Homo sapiens: one gene and its partners. The protein of the gene in region 2 purifies or fractionates together with the protein of the main gene of each other region. This does not show direct contact. Each region holds a gene or a part of one and is shown on either strand. Other genes may lie near its edges.

What was found.
Region 1: the proteins of CD226 (region 2) and MAOB purify together in Homo sapiens (co-immunoprecipitation; 2 studies listed by BioGRID and IntAct, with this or other methods). This does not show direct contact.
Region 3: the proteins of CD226 (region 2) and TMED1 purify together in Homo sapiens (co-immunoprecipitation; 2 studies listed by BioGRID and IntAct, with this or other methods). This does not show direct contact.
Region 4: the proteins of CD226 (region 2) and DYM purify together in Homo sapiens (co-immunoprecipitation; one large-scale study listed by IntAct). This does not show direct contact.
Region 5: the proteins of CD226 (region 2) and WASHC5 purify together in Homo sapiens (affinity purification with mass spectrometry; one large-scale study listed by BioGRID and IntAct). This does not show direct contact.
Region 6: the proteins of CD226 (region 2) and TTYH3 purify together in Homo sapiens (co-immunoprecipitation; 2 studies listed by BioGRID and IntAct, with this or other methods). This does not show direct contact.
Region 7: the proteins of CD226 (region 2) and ATP2B3 purify together in Homo sapiens (affinity purification with mass spectrometry; one large-scale study listed by BioGRID and IntAct). This does not show direct contact.

What each region holds. Positions count from the first base shown.
Region 1 is NC_000023.11:43,875,951-43,879,450, forward strand, and holds part of MAOB (amine oxidase [flavin-containing] B), read right to left. Parts: intron 1-3,500.
Region 2 is NC_000018.10:69,864,374-69,867,873, forward strand, and holds part of CD226 (CD226 antigen isoform a precursor), read right to left. Parts: exon of another isoform or gene 3,374-3,500; intron 3,039-3,373; coding exon 2,984-3,038; intron 67-2,983; coding exon 1-66.
Region 3 is NC_000019.10:10,833,413-10,837,457, forward strand, and holds the start of TMED1 (transmembrane emp24 domain-containing protein 1 precursor), read right to left. Parts: upstream 2,801-4,045; 5' UTR 2,780-2,800; coding exon 2,597-2,779; intron 2,329-2,596; exon of another isoform or gene 2,191-2,328; intron 2,180-2,190; exon of another isoform or gene 2,120-2,179; coding exon of another isoform or gene 2,051-2,119; intron 1,942-2,050; coding exon 1,844-1,941; intron 1,706-1,843; coding exon 1,522-1,705; intron 1-1,521. UniProt on the Homo sapiens protein: Potential role in vesicular protein trafficking, mainly in the early secretory pathway.
Region 4 is NC_000018.10:49,457,846-49,462,074, forward strand, and holds the start of DYM (dymeclin), read right to left. Parts: upstream 2,801-4,229; 5' UTR 2,553-2,800; intron 1-2,552. UniProt on the Homo sapiens protein: Necessary for correct organization of Golgi apparatus. Involved in bone development.
Region 5 is NC_000008.11:125,074,793-125,078,292, forward strand, and holds part of WASHC5 (WASH complex subunit 5), read right to left. Parts: intron 1,709-3,500; coding exon 1,556-1,708; intron 320-1,555; coding exon 206-319; intron 1-205. UniProt on the Homo sapiens protein: Acts as a component of the WASH core complex that functions as a nucleation-promoting factor (NPF) at the surface of endosomes, where it recruits and activates the Arp2/3 complex to induce actin polymerization, playing a key role in the fission of tubules that serve as transport intermediates during endosome sorting.
Region 6 is NC_000007.14:2,634,986-2,638,485, reverse strand, and holds part of TTYH3 (protein tweety homolog 3), read right to left. Parts: intron 1-3,500. UniProt on the Homo sapiens protein: Calcium-independent, swelling-dependent volume-regulated anion channel (VRAC-swell) which plays a pivotal role in the process of regulatory volume decrease (RVD) in the brain through the efflux of anions like chloride and organic osmolytes like glutamate.
Region 7 is NC_000023.11:153,559,142-153,562,641, reverse strand, and holds part of ATP2B3 (plasma membrane calcium-transporting ATPase 3), read right to left. Parts: intron 2,914-3,500; coding exon 2,700-2,913; intron 1,967-2,699; coding exon 1,755-1,966; intron 508-1,754; coding exon 400-507; intron 1-399. UniProt on the Homo sapiens protein: ATP-driven Ca(2+) ion pump involved in the maintenance of basal intracellular Ca(2+) levels at the presynaptic terminals. Uses ATP as an energy source to transport cytosolic Ca(2+) ions across the plasma membrane to the extracellular compartment.

The DNA of each region.
Region 1 (3,500 bases), on a different chromosome or scaffold from region 2:
ATTTATTAATTATTTATTTATTTATTGAGACAGAGTCTCACTCTGTCTCCCAGGCTGGAGGGCAGTGGCACAATCTCGGCTCACTGTAACCTCTGCCTCCCAGGTTCAGGTGATTCTCCTGCCTCAGCCACCCAAGTAGCTTCGGACTGGAGGCATGCGCCACCACGCCTGGCTAATTTTTGTATTTTTAGTAGAGACGGAGTTTCACCATGTTGTTCAGGCTGGTCTTGAACTCCTGACCTCAAGCAATCCACCCACCTTGGCCTCCCAAAGTGCTGGGATTACAGGTGTGAGCCACCATGCCTGGCCAATAACCACACTTATTAATAACAAAAATTCCCTCAAATATTTTTAAGAAGAAAAGCCACTGATATAAATGAAAGATGCAGTCACATTCCATCATGGTGATTTATACTTTGAGGAATTTTTTTGGAGAGGGAAGAGTATGGTGTTTCTGGAAACGTGAGTTGCAGAAATAATACATATTTGTTGTGAAAATCTGTAAATTACAGAAAATGGAAAAAAATGAAAATCATCTGTAATTGAACTCCACAAAAAAACTAACCTGTTACTATTGCCACCCCTATTGCCCAAGCTCCACATTTAGGGGAACAGATGGGATTTGAGCCCAAGTCCCAGGCCTCCAATGCCCTTTGTGTTTAACAGCTGTGTTATCTTCCTTCCTCTTCGTATACAAATGTTTTGCATTTATAGTTTCTGACATATTTATCTCTTAAAATACATATTAAAATAATTAGAGTTAAAGCCTTTTGTTTAAATTAAGCTGCTGACTTTCTCACATCATCTGTGTTAGTAAATCATATACAAGCCAAGAAAACAGGGCTTGGAAGCAGAATCTCTGTTACAGGCTAATGTTCTCCGAGTGTGCATGCACGCGTGTGTGTGTGTGTCAGTGCATTCAAATGCACAGCCACAAACCACTTCCTCAGCCCAAAGTTTGACAGTGAGGAAGCTGGCACACTGGCACTTCAGACCACTAGTTGCTAGTGGACATTTTGTCAGCCTGATGAACAATAATCATCAATATCTATTGTGTGCCTGCCAAATGCCAAGCCACATTCCAAGCACTCTACATGTATTTTCTCCTTTAATTCTCTCAGCCACTTTGTGAAATAGATACCATTATTATCCCCATTTCCAAATGAGAAAAGTAAGGCATGGGAAGGTTAACTAACTATTTTGCCCAAGGTGGCACAGCTAGTTAGTGGTGGAACCAGGGTAGACACCATGCTCTTAACCCCTATGCTCCACCACTGCCCCTGAATGTATGGCAGGGAGCCTAGACCTCAATACCCAGTCAGAGGAGAAGAAAATTGTGACCATTGTCAATGCCAAGCCAAGCCTTAAACCTGCCCTGGTGACTTCTGAGGACACATGGGGGCCTAGAAATTGTGACTCTAGTGGCAACTGGCTCTACTCACACAGCCCACCAACCGGCCCCAACACTGTGTCCCAGGGGTGTTAGAATCAAGCAGAAAGAACAAGGCTTTGTCATTCTTAACCTTCACAGAGCTTTTGTCATTCTAATCAAGCTCCTAACACCTTGTACAGCATGTAGATAACGCTTGATATGCTACCTTTTTATCATTTATTATTAAATAATATTATTAAATAAATAATATCATTTGTTATTAATGCATTTATCTTCTATTGTAGTTAAGACAGGAATCAAATGGCTGAAATGAAGACCAGATCAGAATTGGAATAATAGCCAGGTTGAGGTGAGGCTGAAGTACAGATCTAAGACTTCCAGAATTTCTCCTGAAGCGGAACCCAGTGGGTCTCAGAGCCCAAAGTGAGCCTGAGTTCCTCAGGCCCCTTGCGGGGGGATAAAGGAATTGGCTGAGCCAGGATGAGGCTGAAGTCAGGCGAGTCTCTCCTGATGCCCACATGTATACATGGCGTCCTGTTGCCACCTTATCTATGCTGCACATCCAGAAAAATTATTGGTTGGTGAAAAGAAGTGATTACATAGAAATGCCTGTTTTTGCTCCCTTAGATTGAAAAACTCTACAGGACAAACAAGGATATATTTCCAAAAAGGTAGAGTAAGGCACCTATAAGCCAAAGCCGAAGTGATCACTGTTTATGGTCCTACATGTGCATTCTTTCCAATCCTTGAAACAAGCCGGCCAGGAAGGCATTATGAGTCTCATTTTAAAGATGAGGCAGCTGAAATACAGGGAGGTTATGTACCTTTTAAGGTTCCACATAGGTAAGCATAAGAAATGAGATTCATAACTAGTGTGTTTGACACTAAGCCTATTCTCCCCCTCCCAGTCTTTTTTTATAGGCAGTCTTTGTCTGTGGCCCACGCTGGAGTATAATGGCATGATCATAGCTCACTGCAGCCTCGAGCTCCTGGACTCAAGTGATCCTCCCACTTCAGCCTCCAGAGTAGCTGGGACTACAGGTGCACTCCTCTATACCCAGCCTTTGTGTGTGTGTGTGTGTGTGTGTGTGTGTGTGTGTGTGGAGACCATGTCTCATTACGTTGCCAGGGCTGGTCTCAAACTCCTGGGCTCAAGCAATCCTCCCGTCTCAACCTTCCAAGATAAATCGTATGTTCTTTTAATATTGCTGTATTACCTCTGTGTATTCTTTCCTTGACTAGGATATACAAATTTTCAGGCATATCTATATAATTATTATTTTTTAGGACATTCAAGTGGGTTACAGGAGCCCAGGGAAGTTCTCCATTTTTCTTCACCAAAGGTGAGAAAGAGGCTTTGCCATTAACATATGGGCCACATCTGCCCACCACACACCTCAACTCATAACCCCTTGTGAGCCATCTCTGACATTCCCTGCCAAAGCCAGTACCACTAGCCTGCAGCCAGGCTTGCTCTCCCTGCCACAAAGATCACCTGCCAGGTGTTGGTTACAATTTGGAAGTCTGGTTCCAACACTTCCAGGGATCTCAAACAAGTGCCTGCCACCCTCAAATGACCAAATCTCCTCTCCTAAGTCTGGCCAAAACTTTCTTGTTTCTGCTTCAAGTTGCCTTTTTTAGTTTTTATTTTGGGGATTGAACAAGAACTATTCCAGAATTGCAAAAGATAGTTTCCATGGTTCCACCCACCCAAACACTAAAACTGAGAGACGCGGGACAGATGCAACGTGCTGCTGTCCAGTTCCATGTGGGAGATGTCATTGCTCTGCCAAGTCTCTGGAGATGATCTGCCCCTTGGGTAAAAGAGATTTCAGTGCATACTCATTTATACACCATACACATTTCTAAAAAGTTAGTCTACAACTATCTTGGAACTTTTAAAACATCAAAAAAGAAAGTTATGTATTAACCAGCTATCCTCCCAGTATGTCTCTGTTTATCCCAAAGGGAGTGATTAAAATTTGCTGACAGCTTTAAAAATTATCAGGGAATTGCCAGAATGTCCCAAGTTTAATAATTAACAAAGCTTAGAACGCAGAGTCAAATCCAGAGACTTTTAAACATAAATCATTGTGTTGGTCACCTA
Region 2 (3,500 bases):
TGTATCATCCATGGATTGATTGGTAGGTTGACTGGTAGAGATGGGACTTCTATAGTTATTGGGTGCCTAGAAAGACAAACAGCAGAGAGTGTCAATAATTCACTGCATTTCAACAACTAATGAAGACATTCAAAACATACCTCTCATAAATGCAGGCATGATATGGGACAAGTTTCCATTATAATTAATTTGATAAAACATTCTCATTGTATTGAACTTCTGTTGGAAATCATATTCTTGACTGAGATGCAACAGAAATCTAGTCTAGATTAATACTTGCTGTATTGTGCTATGAATTACCTGTTTCAATGTAGAACTCCCTCTCCCAATGTTAAGCTATTTTGATAAGAACAATTACTATCATTTTTATATGGAAATTCTAACACAGTGTCTGAACTTTAAAAAATAAGCAACTTAACATATAAAAAGTTAACAAAACTGACATCAAGATGATATTGTATAATCATTAATCTTCTCTACCGTAATCAAGTCACTTTGACCACATATGTATGTATGTAACAGAAAATATGCAGGTGTGAAAAAAGAAAGACAAATTAAGAGACAAAAGAAACTAGAGAAAGGTCTTTTGATGAGTAATTTAAAAATTTAGATTGACCTTAGTGTTGTTGGTTTTTTTGAGTCAGAGTCTCGCTCTGTTGCCCAAGCTGGAGTGCAGTGGCGCAATCTAGGCTCACTGCAACCCCCACCTCCCAGGTTCAAGCAATTCTGCCTCAGCCTCACGAGTAGCTGGGATTACAGGCAAGCACCATCACGCCCAGCTAATTTTTGTATTTTTAGTAGAGATGGAGTTTCGCCATGTTGGCCAGGCTGGTCTCAAACTCCTGACCTCAGACGATCCGCCCACCTCAGCCTCCCAAAGTGTTGGGATTACAAGCGTGAGCCACCATGACCAGCCAGATGTTAGTGTTTTTAAGAAGAAAGCAAAATGAAAATTCAAGTGCCATGATTACTTATAGAGGTTATCTTTTAAAAAAGAGAATGAAGTAGTTCTAATGTCTTTTTTTGACAGTCCAACCTATTAACTCTTTAATAATCCTTCAAAATATTATTCTACAAAAACCTGAAAAAGTTGGATACCTAATATAGACCGTTGCAAAGCTCCCTTTCATTCCCCAAATTCACAACAATAAATGTGACTAGACTGGCATGAGTAGACAAAGGCTAAGGATGAAGAAGGGAATCCCAAAATTGTGTATGACAGAGCACCAATTTATTTCTTGCTGAAGTGGCTGATGAAATAAAGCAAGGTTTCTTGATTCTACAGTTGGCATCAAGAAGCAATCCATGTTTTTTGCCAACAAACAAAAAAAATATTTTTTGCAAAAGTAACTACTTAATAAATAAAAAGTTAAACTGATAAATTATGAAGGCATCTGATGAACACATGTTGGATTGTCAGAACCTTTTTAGTACTTGGCTTGTGGCCATGTAGAATTCCACTGCGAATAGTTAAAATGAAAAGAAATTTATATACTTTTGGCTAGGAATTGGGGAATTTTTTGTCTTAGTTTGGGCTGCTGTAACAAAATACTGTAGACTGGGTTGCTTAAACCACAAACACTTATTCCTCACAGTTCTGGAGGCTGGGAAGTCCAAGATTAAGAAAATATTTTCCTAACTTGAGAAAAAAAAAAGAGTCCAGTGAGGGCCTGCGGGCCTGTTTCTTGGTTTGCAGACAACTGTCTTCTCAGTATCCTCACATTGCAAAGAGCAGAAAGAGGAAGCAAGCTCTTCTGTCCTTAAAAAGGCACTGATCCCATTCACGAAGACGCCACCCTCATGATCTAATTACATCCCAAAGTCTCCACCTCCTAATATCATCGCATTAGGCATTAGGATTTCAACATATGAATGTTGGGAAGACATAAATGTTCAATCCATAGCAACTTTTTTTGTGAAATTTCATAAACAGGATGCTATGCATTAAAGGAAGAGATTTGAAGTATAGTGGGGATAACGAGCATGAAAATACATATCCCTCTTATCTGCAAACCCAGAAGGAAGTTTCTAGTCTTTTAGTTAAACACTAAGGGGCAGCAGCAAGGCAGAATAAGGAAGAAACTTTTACAGCTCATCAAACTCCTGCAGCCCATAAGGAAATAAAAAAGTTCTTTGGTTGTATAAGTATACACTAATAACTTACCTCCAAAGATAATAATAATAATGAATATCATTACGTTCTTCTATGTGCTTGCTACGCTTCTGGTTCTTTTATGCAATTTAACCATCACAATAACCTTATGACATAAAAATATTATGTCCTCTCCTGGGTTGGATACTGTCCCCTGCAAATTCATGTCCTCCTCAGAACCTCATAATGTGACCTCATTTGAAAATAGGATCCTTGTAATTAGCTAAGCTCAAACAACGCTGTGCTGGAGAGGGGTGGGCCTTTAAGTCCAAGATAACTGGGGTCTCCATAAGAAAAGAAGGAAGGCAGACACACACACACAGCTGAGAACAGTGATGAGAGGGGCAGAGATTGGAGCGATGTGTCTACCAGCCAAGGATCGACAGCTCCACTAGAAGCTGGATAGAAGCATGGGATGGATTCTCATCCCACGAAGAAACCAGTACTTCTGACACTGTTTCTTGTACTTCAACCCTCCAGAATTATGGAAGAATAGATTTCTGTTGTTTTAAGCCACCCCGTTTTGGTAATTTGTCACAGCAGCCCTAGAAAAGGAACAAAGATTTAGGGAAGGCATAGTGTTGATTGTTATTACGCCAGGGTAATTGCTCCTTTATTTATATTCATATAAAAAACTTAGTTTCAAAGGGTATTAAAAATAGAATAGTTCAGAAAATAACTTTCTCCAAATAGCTGATATTTAAATTACAGGCAACTGCATGGTCAGGTTACTGAAAGGACAATAAAATATAAGATTGCTAACTGCAAAAGAGACTGACTTTGCATCTGTAAATTACAAAAGAAAAAAATGACAGTTCCGTATAAACTTACCTTCTGTGTATCCCAGGACTCTGTAAATAGATCTCTTCTCTCTCTCCTTCTCCTTCTGGAATGCATATTCAATAAAGGATATAAAGATATGATATTCCAGTACTAATATTATTTCGAAGACTCTATACCTCACTGTACCCCTAGCCCACATGCACCTTCTAATATGTTGAAGTAGCTTTATGCACATTTATCCAAAATTCTGTTACCCTACAGTTTTTTTCATTTTCCCTGTCTTCTCCAAATTGCTCCCAGATGGTGAGGGCAACTAAATGGATATCTAACCACTGTGCATTAGTAATTAATCTCAGTGATTTTACTAAAGAATGATTTATAGTGACTTATTACATAAATGACTTATAGCTTTCTCCAAATAACCTCACATTTAAGACATTTTCCACAATTAAAATTTATTTTAAATGCCAGCAGTGTAACTTCTTGGATGACAATATAATGAAGCTTTATAAAATCTTTTGGGTGTTATTCTAAATCACTCGTATGGATTATTTTATTAAATCAC
Region 3 (4,045 bases), on a different chromosome or scaffold from region 2:
GAGCCTGTTTCCTCTTCTATAAGCTTCCAAATTGCTGTGAACATTTAATGCCTAAATAAATGTACAAGGATGAGCATGGTGGCTCATGCCTATAATCCTAGCACTTTGGAAGGCTGAGGTGGGAGGATCGCTTGAGCCCAGGAGTTTGAGACCAGCCTGGGCTACATGGCAAAACCCCATCTCTACAAAAAATTAGCCAGGGGTGGTGATGTGCAACTGCAATCCCAGCTACTCAGGAGGCTGAAGCAAGATTACACCTGTAATCCAAACACAGGAGGATCACTTAAACCCAGGAGTTCAAGACCACCCTAGCCAACATGGTGAAACCTCGTCTCTACAGAAAACAAAAAATTAGGCATGGTGGTGCACACCCGTAGTCCCACTGAGGTGGCAGGATTGCTTGAGCCCAGGAGTTTGAGGCTGCAATGGGCTATGATCACACCACTGCACTCCAGCCTGAGTGACACAGCAAGACCTTGCCTCGCCGTAGCTCACACCTGTAATCCCAGAGCTTTGGGAAGCCAAGGCAGACAGATCCCCTGAGGTCAGGAGTTCGAGACCAGCCTGGCCAACATGGTGAAACCCTGTCTCTACTAAAAATACAAAAATTAGTCAGTCAGGCGTGGTGGCACAGCTATTCAGGAGGCTGAGGCAGGAGAATTGGCTGAACCTGGGAGGCAGAGGTTGCAGTGAGCTGAGATCGTGCCACTGCAATCCAGCCTGGGTGACCAAGAGAGATCTGTTAGAAAATAAATAAATAAGTAGTTAATTAAAATACTAATAAATGTACAGAACATATTTGCTTGTGGTTAAGAGCATAGTTGCTGAAACCAGCATGGGTTCAATACCAACTCTGCTAGTTGGTCTGTGTGGCCGTGAGTTGCTCAGCCATCTTGTATCTCACTTTCTCCACCTGTAAAATGGGGATGACTTGAGCACAGGGTCTGCTTCACAAGGTGGTTTGGAGATTTACGGTATGAGTTATTTATGATATGAGTTCCTTAAACCTTTACACCAGGGTTTATACCTAGAAATGAACTACTTTTTTTTTTTTTTTTTTTTTTGAGACGGAGTTTTGCTCTTATTGCCCAGGCTGGAGTGCAATGGTGCGATCTCGGCTCACTGCAACCTCTGCCTCCCAGGTTCAACTTCCACCTCCTGGGTTCAAGTCATTCTCTGGCCTCAGCCTCCTGAGTAGCTGGGATTACAGACGCCCGCCACCACACCCGGCTAATTTTTGTATTTTTAGTAGAGACGGGGTTTCACCATGTTGGCCAGGCTGGTCTCAAAACTCCTGACCTCAGGTGATCCACCCGCCTCAGCCTCCCAAAGTGCTGGGATTACAGGCGTGAGCCACCGTGCCCGGCCTGAAATGAACTACTTATTTTAAGAGCTGCTACTCTTACTATAATTCAGTTGGAGGGCACAACTACGGAGGGGAGGCTGGGTCAGCCCAAGGGGGGCACCCCAGGTGAATCCTAGAGATCTGGAAGGAGTGGCCCCAGCGCAGCCTGGACACACCTTGATGTCCTCCATTTTAACATCCAGCATCTCCTCGGGCTCCACAGCCTCTGCCCATCCTTCGACCTCCTCGTCATCCTGGAGGCTGTCAAAGATCAGTTCAAAGAACACCAGCTTCTCGGAGATGGTGCTGAAGGAGTTGTCAAAGCACAGCTTGTAGTCCCCGGCCTCCGTTGGCTCCACCCTGGGCAGACAGACACACAGACATGACCCAGGGTGGCCAGCCAGCCGACTCAGCGGGGCAGTCAGGGCGGTAACCTGAGGCCGCCTGGGAAGGGCAGGGCTGTAACTGAACCCAGGCAGGCATCAAGACTGAACTCACGTGTGTACCCCATCAGCCTTGCGGGACTCGCTGACCAACAGCACGCCCTGAGGGCTCTCCAGCGTGAAGTCCACGTCCAGTCCAGCACCTCCGATCACCTGGGGGGCAGGTAAGAGCGGGTGGAGGGCTAGCGGTAGGCCAAGGGCGCCTGCCGAAGAGGGCTACGGCTGAACCAACACTGATCAATACAGACCACCAAGGGCTTACCTGAACGGCGGCACACCCACACCCGCCCCAACCTGTCCCAGTGGCTGCGCCCCTTGCCTCCACCCTCATTGATATGACAGCTTGGGGTCCATACTTTCAGCTGACCACGCACCTACCAAAAGTACTTAATGGACGTTTACCTGACCACGCCCCTGGTTGGCTCCGCCTCCGAAAGAGGATAGGCCCAGCCTTTTTCCTTAGTCTAACCCCCGAGAAAGGCCTGTGTGGGCAACGCCCCCGCAGTTGACCTATCAGCACTATCGCCACGCCCACCAGCCAGAGTCCTGTCCTCTCAGAGGCTCCCTATACTTATCGATGGCCCCGCCCCCTCTGGATCTCTTACTCTAGCCCCGCCTGCTTCATTACTCCCTCCCCTTCCGCTCCCACACACCGTCCCCGCCCCATCTGTCCATCTCTTTCTAGCTCCGCCCCCGCGCTCCCAAGCACGGATTCCTCCCCCTTCCTCCTAAAGCGCGCCTCGCCTCGACCGCTTGGCCACGCCCCCTCTCCCTGACTCTGCTGGCCGCCCAGCCCGCGACCCTCTACCTGGTATTCGGTCTCGAGGCTTGCGTTGGCCGGCGCGGACTGGTAGAAACACTGCTTCCTCCCCGCCGGCAACAGGAACGTGAACTCACCGTCCTGGATTGGCGGGGGCCCCGCCCCTCCCACCTCCACTGGTGGCATTAGTAGCCACAAGGCCAGGGCTAGGGCCGCGCCGGCCGCCATCATCCGGGTCACCCTCTGGTCTGCAAAGGGGTCGCGGCTCCTTTAAGCGCTAGCCCTGCCCCGGTGCTACTCGGCGGAGCTCATTGGCAGTGGCTTCTGTATGTTGTCCGTAACCAGAGGTGCCAGGAGTGAAGGACCCCCCCACTAGAGGGCAGGCGGCCCGAATGAATGCCTGATGTGCCCAGAAACACTCAACCGTCTGGGAATATTTTTCTCAAAGGCTTCGGCTCTCTTCTCGGCCGCTGGTGGAGGAAAATTACAAAAATAAGTGCCATGATGGCGCATCTTTTGTAGGCAGTAGCTAAGACAACTAAAGTTACAGGCGGCAGGGTCCTTTTTAGTCACCTCCACGTGGTTTTCCCAGAGTGCGCCGCGCGTGACAACCTTTGGCGGGACCGACGTGGTGGAGTGGACCCAAAAATAGCGTCTAGGCGTGGCCCTGTACGCGACCCGTAGGGCTCGCCTATAAAAGGGCTGGGGCGGGGCGGAGATACCTGTGGCGTCGTGTTTTGCTTGCTCTGTGAGCGTGGTCCAGGTTCGACGCCTTTTGCGCCTTAGAGGCATCAGCGTATCAGTTTCCTCGTAAGTCGGGAGTGATGGAACGACCACCCTGTAGTGCGGCTGTGAGAATTGAGATGAGGCTTGGTTCATATTGAGTGCTCAGCTTTCCTGGCTTATAGACAGTGGAGGGGCGTGGCCCCACCATGCACCCCAAGGGTCTCAGACTCAAGGGCCAGCAGGTAAATAGAGCCATTACAGTAGCCTCGGGTCAGAAAAACGACAGCCCAGGTAGGAAGAGATAAGGACAGTGTGGGACTGGGAGCCACGTTGCCTGGTTCAGCTCCTGCCCCACCCATTACTTGAGGCATTCCCTCTGTTGAGCCTCAGTTTCCTCTTCTGCAAAATGGGGATAATAGGCCTACGCTACTGGGCTGTCTTTAGGATACGTGAAATGCTTGTTGAGTGCTTGCTTCCGCAGTGCGTGGGACATCACAGGCCCTCAGTAAATAATAATCTGTTATTTGGTTCCCGTCTAAACATAAACTGTGTACAGGGAGATGTTTAGTCTTCAAAGATAAACCCGGAAAAGGTTGGCAGGTGATGACAAAGATCCCTCAAATACAGCTGGCTGTTGTCAGCACTTTCCTGCATTTGGAGAATTTGGGGAAGTAGCTCTTTGTAATATCAGTTTGGTATTCCTTTTCACTCCAACTTTTTCTATCATTTACACTCACTGCTTGGACAATTTGAAGTAACAGTGGAGAACGG
Region 4 (4,229 bases), about 20 Mb from region 2:
TGTGGTCAGAGACTTGAGGATGGAAGTATGATCAGAGAGATGCAACACTGGTGGCTTTGAAGACAGAGGAGGTACGCCACAAGCCAAGGAAAGTGGCAGCCTCTAGAAGCTGGAAGAGGCATAGATGCCCCCTAGAAACCTCCAGAGAAGAACACAGCCTTGTTGACAGCCAGTGAGACCCACTTTGACTTCTAACCTACAGAACTGTAAAATAATAAATGCATTGTTTTAAGCCACTAAATTTGTGGTAACATGTTACAGCAATCATAGAAAACTGATACATAACATTAAACAACTTCTAATAATATGTGAAATTATCTAGAAAAGCATAACCAAATTGCCCAAATATTTGGAGCAATATAAGAAAGAGCCATTTGTACATGTTGTAACATATTTCACTTCTATTTCTCTCCTGCCCTCCATTCATTAAAAAGCCTACCAAAGTGACAATTCTTCAAACTTTCTGTAGAAAAATGAGCCATATTAATAAAAAAAAAAGGAACAATCAGGATGGCAGGATCTAATGGAAAAATCAGGAGATAATTATGCCACATTTTTCAGAGTCAAACATAAAAGCGTTTGCACTGTTTATCCTCTTTGTATCAAATGGATTACCACACTTTTTTAAAGTACAGTAAATCTTTCTAGATATTAAAAACTATTAATTTTTATGTGTGATAATGGTATTCTGGGCCTATTAAAAAGAGCAGGCCAGGTGCAGTGGCTCACCCCTGTAATCCCAGCACTTTCAGAGGCTGAGGTGGGTGAAATGCCTGAACTCAGGAGTTCGTGACCAGCCTGAGCAACATGATGAGACCCCCGTCTCTACTAAAAATACAAAAAATTAGCCAGGCATGGTAGCACGTGCCTGTAATCCCAGCTACTCAGGAGGCTGAGGCAGGAGAATTGCTTGAACCCAGGAGGCAGACGTTGCCGTGAGCCGGGATCACGCCACTGTACTCCAGCCTGAATGACAGAGCGAGACTCTGCCTCCCACCACCACCAACAAAAAAAAGCAATTCAATCTTCTACAGATATATATTGAAATATTTACAGATGAAATTGAATGTCTATGATTTGCTTTAAAATAATTGTGAGTGGGGATAGGAATGCATAGGGACATAGATGAAATTAAATTGGCATGAGTTAACTGCTGAAGCTGGGTAATGGGTACATGGGAGTACCCTTTATTATTTCACTGTGTGAACTTTTCTATGGTTAAAAGGTGCAAAAACATAAAAACTCCTTGACCTATATGTCGTAACAACACAGACTTCTTAATAGCTGAATCTCCTTCCTATTAACATTGCCCCAACTCAGTTCTCTGCCATTTAATCCACTTGCGACTGATAGTTTCATCAATTATTCCAACTCATTTTGCCCTATGTACTCAGTTTATGAGCTTAAGGCAGACACCTAACCTCTAAAAGACTAGTTCTTCATTTACAGAATGGGAATATTCATACTTGTCCGGTCTATCTCCAAGTTGCTGAGAGGATTATCTAAAATAAAACTTCAAAGCAGGATAATCACTCCAGAAATCCATATATTCATAAATTTCATCCTCTGCAACAACCATTCACCCATTCCTATAGATTCTCTTCCCTTCCACCTCGTTCTTCTCTTGAGCCCTCAACTCATCAGCCTAAGCACCTGAGTTCCTCTGGTGGACGCTACATTCCTCTCCACGGCCTCCACCCTCCAGGTTTTCATCCTTCAGCACATCACCCTTGCTCTACACACCCCTCTCTCCAACTTCCCCTCTCCTCTTTCAAGGAACTCACTCCATCTGTGCCCCCTAATCAGTCTATCCTGGGTACCCGCTTTGCTGGCCGATTACAATCATCCCATCACTTCTCTACCCCTGTTCAGTAGAGAACAGCTTTATCCAATCAGCTTTACCACACCAATACCCTCAAACCCCACTACTGCCCCCAGTTCACAAACACCCACCCTTTCACTTTTCAGTCAAAACACAATTGCTCAGGCAAATCCACGGCGACTGAAAGTAGATCAATAGTGTAGGGGAGAGAAGGAGGAGTGACTGCTAATGGGTACGAGCTTCTTTGGGGCGGGGGGGGCGGTGATTAAAAATGCTCTGGAGTTAAGGGTGGTGATGGCTGCTCAACCCTGTGAATATACTAAAAACCACTGAGTTGTACTTTTAAAGGGTTAATTTTCTGATATGTTAGTTATACCTCGATAAACTATGAATGTAAAAAGAAGAAAGAAAAACCCAACAGCTATTGCTCACCCTGCCCATCACACGCCCATTTGTCAGACCAACACCGCCCCATCTCCGGAAGCACCGACTTGGCCTTCGGTATCCCCCAACTCCCAACAGCGGACTCGGACAGAGGTCCGTCCGCTGTCAGCACAGCCCCTCCGGGTGGCCCAGGCGCCCGCGGGCAGGGAAGGGAGGGTCCCTTCGCCGCCGCCCCGGGGCGCTGGCCGGGTTGCGGAGGGTGGCCCCTGACCCCCTCTGACAGGAGGCCGGGGACAGCCAGGCTTTCGGGCCCGGCCGCGCTGAGGGGGGCGGCGCTACAGCCCACCTGTCTCAGCCGGCTGGGGGATCTGCTCCAGCTCCACGGACCCGCGGACGGATGGGAGGGTGGCAGAGGGGTCAGGAGAAGTCGCTGTCGCCGCCGCAGCCCAGGTGGCGCACACCGGCTCAGGCCTCCATGTTTCCACGTCTCAGCGGGTACAGATCCGGCTCCGGTCCGGCCTGCAGCTCGGCCCCGGCTCGGCTCCAGCCCGGGCCGCGTCGGTGCGGAGGCCAGGAGGCGGCGAGAGAAGAGGGAAGCGACCGAGAACGCGGCTAGGGACCAGACCCCCAGGCGCGCGCGCCAGCCAGGTGGTCACGTGGCACGCGGCGCGCGCGGGCTTCTGGAAACTGTAGTCCTTTGGGTGTTATTCGTGCCTCCGCCCTCCTAGTACCTCCTGGGCTACCGCAAAGCCACGTGGCGAAATCGAGAAGCGCAAAAACAGCCGTGCGCGGTGGCTCACGCCTGTAATCCCAGCACTTTAGGAGGCCGAGGTGGACGGATCACGAGGTCAGGAGATCGAGACCATCCTGGCCAGCATGGTGAAACCCCGTCTCCACTAAAAATACAAAAAGTAGCTGTTTGAGACAGGATAATCGTTTGAACCCGAGAGGCGGAGATTGCAGTGAGTCAAAAAGTAGCTGTCTGAGGCAGGAGAATCGTTTGAACCCGAGAGGCGGAGATTGCAGTGAGTCGAGATCGGGCCACTGCACTCCAGCCTTGCGACAGAGCTCGACTCTTCTCAAAAAAAAAAAAAGAGAGAGAGAGAGAAGCGCAAAAACCTCACCTGCCGGGTGCTAGAGTCAACCTCACCTGCCAGGTGCTAGAGTCCTCGCTCATGCTACACCGCTCGTTCTGGCGGCTTAACCTTATTAAGGCCTCTGTTAATTGCAGCTGAATAACCATCCCAAAGTCAAGCAATATTGTGTGGGATTCTGGAGAATTGAGAAATAGCAAAATAATTTTTGATGGAGGCAGCTGGCAGGGCTAGCCCTGCCTGCAAAGTTGTCGGAAAGGACAGGTCCCACGGGAAAGAGTAGCAATATGAGATAGTGCCAAAACTATGGAATTTGAAGTCAAATGAGCTGAGGTTTCCACACTGACGTCTTTGAGCAATTACTTCACCTCTCTCAGCCAGTTTCCTCACCTAAAATATATGCATGATGATGATTCTGCCATTACAGGAAATGTTGACATGACTGTAGTAATAACAATTCACATTATGGATTATTTTCTATTTGCCATGCACTATTATTTCGCAAAATGACCCTATGGAACAGATAGCACCGTTATTCCCATTATATAGTCAATATGTGCCAGTGTACTCTGTAAAGTACTATACAAATATTAGGTATTCTTTTCTAGCATAGACTGCCAGTAAATTCACTGAGCTTGCAGAATTATGACAGGAAAACATATTAAAACCCAAAGTAGACTGGGCCCTGTGGCTTATGCCTGTAATCCCAATACTTTGGGAGGCTAAGGTGGGAGGATCACTTGAGCCCAGGAGTTCGGAAGGACCAGCCTGAGCAACATAGCGATACACTGTCTCAACAAAAAATACAAAAATTAGCTGGGAGTGGTTGGCACACCCTCGGTCCCGGCTACTCGGGAGGCTGATGTGGGAAAATCGCTTGAGCCCGGGAGGTTGAGGCTTCAGGGAGCCATAATCTCACCATTGCACTC
Region 5 (3,500 bases), on a different chromosome or scaffold from region 2:
CTAATCTTCAATTTACATATACTATATAACAAAACCTACAATTACCTATCTTATTCTAACCTATAAAATTCACCTTTTATTAATCATTGCATTAAATTATCTAAGTGATTATCTTCCAAATTCCTTGGGAAATCTACTTAGCTTATTTGCTACTTCATAAACTAGGCCTGCAGTTATCAGAGAATGTCCCCAGATTAGAACCTACCTGTTCTCTGACATTTGAAAGGTCCAGGGTATTATTTAAAGCAGTTTTTGCAGCTTTGTAAGGTTCCCAAGCATCTACTAGATTAACTGTGATCCCCATGTAAATACTAATTACCTGAAAGAGGAGACATTCAGAATTTGTTAAATTCCTACTCACTTCAAGGCAAAGGGTTGAATACTAAAGTTATAGAAGGCAATACCCACTCCATGTTTAAATTCCATTCCAATGAAAAACCAAGATTTTCCAAATATATAGGTAAGTGTTCCTGATTGTTAAGTAAGTGTTCCTGATTGTTAATTCACGTTAATAGGTATAAAGATCTCTTTACACCTATTAACGTTGCTTTTTGAAATTCTCTATTGTGTAATATTAATGTTTTCTCACCAGTTGTTTTATTGGTTGGCAATTGCCTGGGATATCTTTTTTTAAAATCCCTTCATTTTCACTGTGCTAGGGTATTTTTTCAGGTGTGTATCTTACAGGTTTCATGTAATTGGATTTTGGTCTTTCTTAATAATAAATATGTCTTTAATTATAGTATCATGGTCAAAACTTCTTTATTAAACTTAGGAACCTGAAGCCACACTATCAGTGTTTTCCTCTTGGCTGCTCAACTCTGAGCTCACTAATATGATTCACAGTTGGCCAGGAACCACCACTTCCTAATGTAGGCTGTTCTCATACTACCAATAAATTGAAGGCCCCTCATAACGATAGTTTATGTGATTCAACAGCCGATATAGAAGCAGAACAAAATCTGCTACATGCGAATATAATCCAACTCCCTGCATTTTGTTAAAGCCTCTTTGTTTTCATATATTTCATTTCATATATATTATGAAGCAAGCTTTATTCCTATAAGAATATTTTTAAATGAAACAATGCTTACAAAGGTACAAGCATATCCTTGCAATAATATAAACTTTAGTAACCCCATTACAGTTAGCTTATAGGTAAAACTTTATTATTAAAGTGAAATTCCTATTCACAAAGTGACAAATTAGATGAATTTGGCTATCTTAGATTCAGAAAATGGAAAAGAATAAATAAATTCTTACACAACTTAGTTGTAATCTCAGTAGCTAAAGCAAGAGACATTTTAATAAATGATTTAATCTTGAGAGTATCCATTTTAGAAAAAGACTAGTGGGTTCTTCAGGAAGTTTTACTGACTCATTTATTCCTTCATGTTATAATTATAAAATTCTCAATACAGTTAGAGCAAGTTTACCTAAGTGATGTTATGTCCCATTATTTACAACATTACAACCTGTGGGTTAAAGGCCAAAAGAATGGGAAGTTAGTTCTCTAACACATTTACTGTAGAGGAAAAAAATTAGCAATACTTGCCCAATTATCTGGAAAGTATTTATCCACTATCTCTCTCATTTTTGCTTGATGGGTGTGAAGGATGGAAGGCTCAAAGTAGAGAATCACGTACAGCATGGCAGCTTGGTTTGCCAGGGCTGTGCTGCGATGCTCCGGCAAAGGATACGCTGAGACCTGCAATGTCAAGACGACACCCCGAGAAAGCTGTTGGCAACATTTGCACGTAGACATGCTCAAATTAAACTCTCTGGTTGTAAGACACATCAGTTTTTCCAAAGCCCATCACCTTTCAGGATCCTGGACACTGGAAGCCCTTCTCAGACTGTACCATTGCTTGCCAAGGTCTTCCTTCTTATTCCTAACACCATAATATTCTCTTCTTCCAGCCCTTGACCGCTGCAATTCTAAGTCTTTTCTTAAAAAAAAAAAAAAAAAGTCCCATTCCTGTGTCTCCCACCACTTCTCCATTTTTGTATCTTTCCTGTTGGAGACAACCCTTAGAACTGACAGGCTCCACTCACTGTTGCTATTTTCTCACTTTCTGTTTATTATTCAACTCACTGAAATTCGACCTCCATCATCATCCCAGTGGAATTCCCTACGGTCGCTCATGACCTCACAACCATCCAATTCAACGGCTTCTTTTTAAGACTCTCACTTAAATTCTCTGAGGAATGAAATCTCTCCTTCTCTGGTTTCCTAGATACCACTCTCTCTTCTCAATCTCCTTTGCTGAGTCCTCATCTTCTGCCTTTTAAATGTTGGTGTTCCCCAGGGGTTCATCCCCTCACGTACTAGAAATCTTTGGATGCACAAAGCACATATCACCTTGAGCTACCACAAGCAAAAAGGAGAGAAATTGTTATAAGGGCAGACATAGCCATGTCACATGAAACCTGCAGGCAGGTATGTGGCCAGGCCACAGGAAGCGGCTGGGGCTGGGAACCGGAATGCCTTCGCTCTTTCTCCCCTTGATGTGTTGGCCCACCTTTTCTCTCCCTCCAGGCTACTCGCCATATACATGGCAGAATGAGGCTGCCCACAAACTCCCAATTTTGCATGTTGTGGATAAACTCCAATCCAGAAACTGTTTCTCAGGCCCAATTCCAAATTACCTGGAGACAGAATCTGTTCCATCACCCATGACCAGGGATGGGGGAGGTGCAGGACAGAGAGTGGGGTGGACACACAGCACAATCACAGCTTAACCCTTGTGCTAATAAAGATCATGGGGCAAGGAGGAAATGGAAGCACATTGCCTTCAGAAGGACGTGGAATGAGAGGCAATCAGGAATGAGATGCTCTGAATTGACACAGACCAAATTCAAGTTATGGTTCTGCTACTTAGTAACAGGAATTTAAGGAAATTATTTAAGCTCTCCAAGTCTTATTCTTCTCAACAGCAACATGGGGGATAATGCCATCTACTTTACAGGGCTATTGTGAGGAACAGAGAAAATGGTATGGGAACAAAACCTCCTTTGTGGCTGGTTTGGACTGAATTCTCAATGAATGGCAACAATTATTATGGAGACCTGGCATCTGTGGGTAGCTTCTGATTTTGAATTGTCTTAAAACAACAACAACAACACCACCAACAAAAACCCTCTTATTTATACTTAACATATTCACACAAAAAACTAACAAGCTACCTAAAGAACTGCACAGATCAGGTTCATTCTGTGATAAATGATATCCACAGTTATCACAGGCCTCTTTACTCCCTAATTATAATTTTTACAAATATTTAAATATATAACATCTAAAATTATGTTTTCTTCAGAAGAATGAAGTCAAATGGTAATTTTATTTGGCGTTTTTTAAAAGGAAGTGACTACTACACATACTGGCAAGGGGAGTGGGGCGATTTTCAAATGCTGCATGATCTTCACAGCCTTGCTCAGGCTGCCTCCTTTCCTGGCACTCCTCTTACCTTCCTTTTGTCACCTGTTGTGACCTTGCTGCC
Region 6 (3,500 bases), on a different chromosome or scaffold from region 2:
AGGCCAGAGAGGCAGCCCTGGGGCTGAGGCTCAGAGCCGCTCCTGCCCGTCTCCCCACAGGCCGGGCCCCTTTCCTGCACCCTGTAGCCGGGGGACCCCAGCTCTCCCGCTGCCCACGCCCGCCCTCCCCCTCGTGCAAGGAACAGACACCAAAGAGCTGCAGCAAGCGTGTCTATTTTGGTCCCCGTGCTCCGACACATCTCCCAGCGTGACACCCGGAAAATCCCCTGCTCTTCCCACTTGTCTGCAGCCCTCTGCACCAGCTGCCTGGGGACCGGGCCCCAGGCCTCAGACCCAGCCAGGAGCCGCCAGACTGGAGCCCCATCTCCGGGATCAGCTCCCTACCAGGGAGAGGCAGCCCAGAGGGCACGGCCGAACCCCAGACACAGGGCTGCAGGGCTCAGAGCTGGGTGCACCCCAGAACTTCAGGAGTGCTCTTCCACGATGGCCAGGAACCCAGCCAGCGTGCACAGGCCCGAGGGGGGCAGAACGGCTAGGGGCACTGTGGCTGGTACCCTCCTCAGAGGCCGAAGGCACTGGCACTCTGTGGGTGGCCCGGCTTCCTCCCACACCCTCGGCCAACATGGGCCTGACCCAGCCACAGTGGGTGCTGCCCCACAGGACTCAGGTCTCAGCCAGCCTCCCAAGACTGTGAGAAGCCCCCTCGGATGGTGTGAGGCCCAGCACAGGGCCTGGGTGGGCTCCCTGCAGAACATAGCGGCAGGCCCGGGTACAGGAGGCCCTCCTGTGACCCTCCCACACCCACCATCCACCCGCTGTCACATGCCAATTCCCCGGTGGCCACGTCAGGCACTTCCCATGTCCTTGACCCCAGGCCCCTGGCTGCAGATTCGGTTCCTCTTCTCTAGCCGAGGCCTCAGCAGAACTGACGGTGGGGCAGGTGGGGGAAGTGTAGATGCCCCTGAGCCCCCTAAACCTGCACCCCTGGGTTCACGAACTGTGCTGACGCTGTATCCACTGGGACGGACGTGGCTGGGCTGCAGCTGGAACCCGTGCCCAGTCTTCCGGCCCCCCATGCTGGCCGGCCCCCGTTTCTGCTTATGTCGGGGACACAGTGTCCACCTCCCAGGGCCACTGGGTGGCTCTCCAAGAAAAGTGCTTTAGAAACGAGCAGCACAAGCATCCGGGGAGAGCCGCCGTGGCCTGGGGAACCAAGCTGCAGGGCTCCCCGCTCCCCCAGAGCCTGACCAAGAGCCCCCGGCCGGGGGTCAGAGCGGCTGACACTGCAAATCCCTTAGACGGGGTTGGCTGGCAGGGCCTGCCCAGGGGTCAGGGGAGGAAGAAGGGTCACCATGGAGATGCCCAGAAGAGGGGTCCTAGAGCTGGCCCTCGAGTCTCAGGCGAGTGGGGGGCAGGCGGGGGTCCCGCACACACAGACTGGAGTGGCCCCTGGTGATGCTAGAACTGGGGAGATCAGGGAGCCAGCACCCTGAGCAAGAATAACCACCCCAACATCCACACCTACAAAAAGCCGTGAAGACCTCGGGGACTTCTAGAGGGTCCCAGGCTGCTGCACTCCAAGGAAGGGGCTTGAGAACCCCAGAGTCTCCTGGGGACAGAGGTGGCCAGAGTACCCTCAGAACCACAAAAACCAGGAGCCCAGATATAGGAACCCTTGATGCGGGCAGCGGCCGGGCCAAGGGTGGCCTGACACCCACCCCAAGCAGGTCCAGGGCCCACAGCTTCACACCCCCTGGCCAAAAGGCAAGCTCAGCCAATCGGAGTCTCCCCAGGAATGCAGACACCGGCCAAGATGGAAATCCTGAGTGGACTGGGACCAGCCATCAGGGGCTTCCTGCCCACCTCCACCCCCCAATGCAGGGTCCCATTCGCTGTACACCCCCAGCCTAGTTCATCAGCTCCTGTCCACTCAGGGATTGCTCCTGAAGCTTCCACCCAGCTCCCCGGGGGCCTCCGTGTCTGGCCCGCTTCTGTCATCTGTAGGTACAGAATCCTGCCTGGCACCGTGGGACGCTGGACAAGCATCTGGAACACGGTCCAAAGTACGAGACATGTCAAAAGCAATAGGATTCCAGTTCTCAGGGACACCCACCCTACAGCTCTATGCTCTTGGACTGAACCCAGCTGGAGGGACGCTTCTGTCTCACGCTCTTCCCTTTTCCCCAAATGTTCCATGAACGTGTACTGCTTTCGTAAATGACAAGACAGGCGACAGGCGACCAACACTGCCGTTTTAACCAGAACTCATTTCCTTCTGATGAGTGGGGAGGATGATAACAGGCCAGCCCTGCCCCAGGGAACTGCCCCCCAGGCTGCAACTGGGCACAAGGCTGACCTCACCTTGTGGCGGCACAGACAGAGGTGTTGTGCTCTTAGGAGCCAGGCTCCCAACTCTGCTAGGAGAACACTGGCCCTACTCCCAGAGCTCAGATCCCCTCTGAGTGGCCATCCAGCCTGGGCTGGCACAGTGCCTGGAACAGAGGGCTCACCAGTTCCTGAGGCAGCACATTCCCCGTGCGCAGTCAGACCAGAGCGACCCTCTGGCACGTGGGGCTGAGGCCTCTCCCCGAGGCTCAAGCTTCTCTCTGCCTCAGGGCCTTTGCACCTGCCGTTCCCCCAGCCCAGAAGCTCTTCCCCAAGGTCTCTGTATGGTGACCTCAGTCTTATCATTAAGGTCTCAACAGAAACATCTGGGCATTCCAGGCTCTAGTGGAAAACACGTCCCCCATGCTAGGCAAACTGAGGCAGGGCCCACTATCTGCCCTGGAAGGCAGATGTCCCAGTGAAACCATCACCTGCCAGGGCCAGCACGGCCCATGGAGGAGTCAGAAATGAGCAGGCAAATCCTAACCCTCTGATTGTCGGCAGCCGGGCTTGCAACCTCCATGGCAAGCCAGTTAACACCACCTCCTGCAGGAAGCCTTCCCTGACCACTGGGCTCCCACCGCCTGGGTTCGCAACCCACCACAGTCCGTAGCTGTTGTCCTGCATCTGGCCTGCCCTGAGCTGGAGGAGACAGCCCGAGAGAGAGGCTGAGGTCAGTGGGCATGAACTTGATCCCTGCCTGAGGACACGGGGTCACAAAGGGCTGGTGGGAGCTGAGCAGGCAGGCCTCCCCCGAATAAAGCCCAGGACAGTGTCTGGACCACCCAAGGTCACGCAGGAAGAAGCGACAGAGCGAGGGTGCAGGCCTGCGATGCTCTAGCTGAAGAGAAGGCTCTGCTGCCCTCAAGGGCCCCTGCCCGGGGCAGGACAGCCAGACCCACTTGACATTCAGGACTCACTATGCAGCACTGACTGGCCCCGGGCCACGCCAGAGGCCTCAGGCCCAGCCCTGCCAGCTCAGCTGCAGGGCCACCAGGGAGTCTCAGGCCTCCTGTGGGCCTCCAAATCCCTCCTGTGAACAACAGCCCCCCATTCACTCAGATGCTCAGGCAGCACGGGAGCCCCTCTCGACAGTCACTGGCTGGGGAGCTGCACAGAGCCGACCCCAGATGCCCCTCCACCCCCTGCCCTCT
Region 7 (3,500 bases), on a different chromosome or scaffold from region 2:
CTTTCCATCAGGTCAAAATATTTCCTAATTTCTCTGGAGACTTTCTTTTCGCCCCATGGATTATTGATCAGGGTGCTGTTTGATTGATTTAAAATATGTGGGGATTTCCCAAGCTACCCACCCAATTGGAAGGGGCAATTTTTGGCTCTTATCATAGAAAGGGGAGCTGCGGGCAGTTTTCCTGGGCCCTGTCACATCCCAGCCATGTTCCTTTGCATTCTTTTGCTGACACCTTCCCTTGCGTCCTGTCCCTGGGTCCTGGTGTGTCACAGGCCTGAGCCCTCAGTGTGCTTCCTAGGGTGAGGACCCCAAGGCTCTGAAGCAGGGTTAGGGCAAGTGGGCCCATCACAGAAGCTGTCTGCAGGGCAGTCTGAAATGAGGGGCAGGGCTGTCACTCACCTGTCCCCAGACCAGCTCCCCAACACCAACAAACAGGCACCAGAGCCACTGTTCTGTGGATAGTGGGGAGCAGCTGAAGGGCTTCCCGCCAAACTGGACGATGACAATCTGCGAAGGGCAAGTGGGAGAGAGGCAGGTCCAGCCGCGGCTCCTGAGCCACCCTTGTCCTCCAACCCCTTGAAGACCCAGCCACCCTGGTTGGTTCCCCCAGTTGCACGGGCTGCTCCTTGCGAGAGGACCACAAGGCCGGGGGCGTGATGACAGAGCAGTGCATGGCCCCCAGCGCCCCTGGGTGCCAGGCACCTACTGACTCCAGCCTCGGAGTGGGGCCCAGCTCCACTGACCATGCTCCTATTTTCAGCAAGACGGAGGCTGTGACACCCACCCTGCGGGCACGCTGGACATGCCTCATTCTGGAGGACCCTAGAACCTGCCGAGGTCACCTTGTCTTGGCCTCCTGCCTCCTCGGGAGGCATCCAATTTGCAGGGGCAAGCTGTCCAAATGCAAACTGACCCCGTCCTCTGTTGGACTGTCACATTCCGGGCCACTATCCCCTTGCACTCATTACCCAGGACCAGGTACCAGACAGCCAGGGAGCACCCGTATGCCCTGGAACCGCTGCAATGACGCAACCTAGCCAGTCCTGAGCCTACCAGCCCTGCCTCACCTGCTCCTCCCCGAGGGAACCACAGCAAAGGCTCTTGTCCACAGCTCTCACACCCCACCTCCTGCCTGGCGCTCTCCCATGTGGGCCCCTATGGTGTGGCATGTGTCCTCCTCTTGGGGTCTCTGAGTCATAAACTGTCTTTCAGTGGCAACTGTCTCTTGACCTTTTGGCCTTACTATACCTCAATTTTTCTACAAATACACTATATTTTAGAACACTTAGCCCCTCCTAGACAGTGGGGCTGACCAGCCTGTCCACAGCACTGTGGGAAGCAGAGGTTAGTGTGTCAGCACTGGGCACAGAGGTCATCTCCAAAAGAAACTTCTGGAGTTATGGCAGCCTCATGCCAAGGAATTAAGTGCTAGAAATGGGAATGGCAGACCTAGAGGGAGCCAGGGAGGACTCCTTCCAGCATCTGTGAGAAAACTTCGTTCCGATGAGGGCTCACGAAACCCTTCTGGAAGCCAGCGCGCTCACCCAGGGCAAGGCCGGCAATGTTTGGAAGATGAAGAAGGCCCTCTCCGACATGCAGAGAGGACGGGGGCTACAGGAAAGCCAGGTGGGGTGGGGCTCCTTCTGGGAGTGGAGGTGGGGAGGCCAGTACTAGGGGTGGACGAGGGGTCTTGAAGCCCACCACCTCCACTTTTTGCAAGTGGCAGAGGCCAAGAGTGGAGCCGCCCCTCCTACCTGAATCCCGAAAGTGCCCAAAACGATGGTGCAGAAGATGGGGTTGCTGAAGATGCCGTCGAACACGTTCCTCTCGCCGTGGATCTTGCGGGCGTTGATCTCGTTAAAGAGCTGCATCATGACGAACGTGTTGAAGATGATGGTGTAGTGCTCTGAGGGTGGCGAGTGCAGGGGCGCATTCCTCCCGCTGTCGATGTCGAAGAAGAGCTCCCCTGGAAAGCAACATTCCCCACTCAGGCACAGTCATCTCAGCGCATGACGCATTACTCAGGAGCGAGACTTCGGTGTGTAGCTCCCGAGATGGGTCCCTTGTCCCAGGGGATGGCCACTTCCAGCTCACGGCCAAGGCCCAAGGCAGCCACACCCACCCCAGGCTCAACCAACCAGAGTCCTGAGACCCCTCTGGGCCAGGGGCCAGACCCTGAGCCTGAGGGCAGGAAGGAAGAGATTAAGAAGGGAAGTTCTTAAGGCTGGCTTTCCTCGGACGCCCTCCTCCTCTTCCTCTCTCTTGCGGTCACCCCCCACCCACCTCACAGCTTCCAGCACGGCACCCCAGTCACTCCACAGGAGCAATCTTCACAGGGTAAATGTGGGCTGTTCTGTTCCTAGGGTTACCGTGGCCACTCTGGGGCTGGGTAGAAGCTGCCTACTCTACACAGCTACACAGCCGTGGGCAGGATGTCAAGACATGAACTGTTTCTCAGCTGCTCAGCGGCCTGGGAGGAGAGGCTTGCGAAAGAGCTGTAGGCCACCAGCAGGCCTGGCTGCAGGGTTGCTAGCCTGGCCCATCTGCTCCTTCCCCTGTGTGCTGTCCAGTCAGGAAGTGCAGCGTCCCACCCCGTACTGGGTGCGGAGACACAGGTGGAGACACACCAGACAGAATCTGAGCCCGAGGTGGTGGCAACAGTGTCCTGAAGTCCTCCCGGGTGCCCCTGGCCAGCCTACCGACAAACAGCAGGGTGAAGATGATGGCGAGCTGGTACACGGCGTGGCCCAGAATGTTCTTCATCATGGTGCGGGAGATGAGGGGCTTGTCGCGGCCGTACGGCTTCCGCAGCAGCAGCGACTCTGTGGGTGGCTCCGTCGCCAGGGCCAGAGAGGCAAATGTGTCCATGATCAAGTTCACCCACAACATCTGCACGGCTTTGAGAGGAGAGTCCTATGGAGAGGAGGCAGTCACCTTTCCATGGGCCGCCTGCCCGGGAAGGTTGGGGGTGGAAACCCAGTAGCTCCTGGGGGCTCCTCATGGGGTCCACATCACCAGGATTTCATGCCCATGAAAACAGACATCTCCATCCCTACATCGCCTTTACGCTAGTGGGGCGTTTTCTTTGGGCTGTCACGTGCCCGCCTCCCTTCTCTCACCTGGCAGCAGGTGTGCTCCAAATCCCTCGCAGGAGGTGAAAAACCCCAGACCACAAAACAGCCCGACGATGGGGTCTGCCATTTGGGGCAACAGAGTGAGGGCTGCTCTCCTTGTCTCCTGCACCTCAGGGGCAGGAGGAGGCAGAAACTCTGAACTGGACCTTCCTTCTCAGCTCCTCTGAGTTGTTCGTTAAAAATCAGCCTCACAGAAGCCAGACACACAAGGCCACGTACTGTCTGATTCCATTCATAGGAAACTTCCAGAACTGACAAATCCATAGAGAGAGAAAGCAGATGAGTGGGTGCCAGGGGCTGGGGTTTGGGGAGTAGAGAGTGACTGCTCACGGGGTCTGGGTGTCCTTTTGGGGTGATGAGAATGTT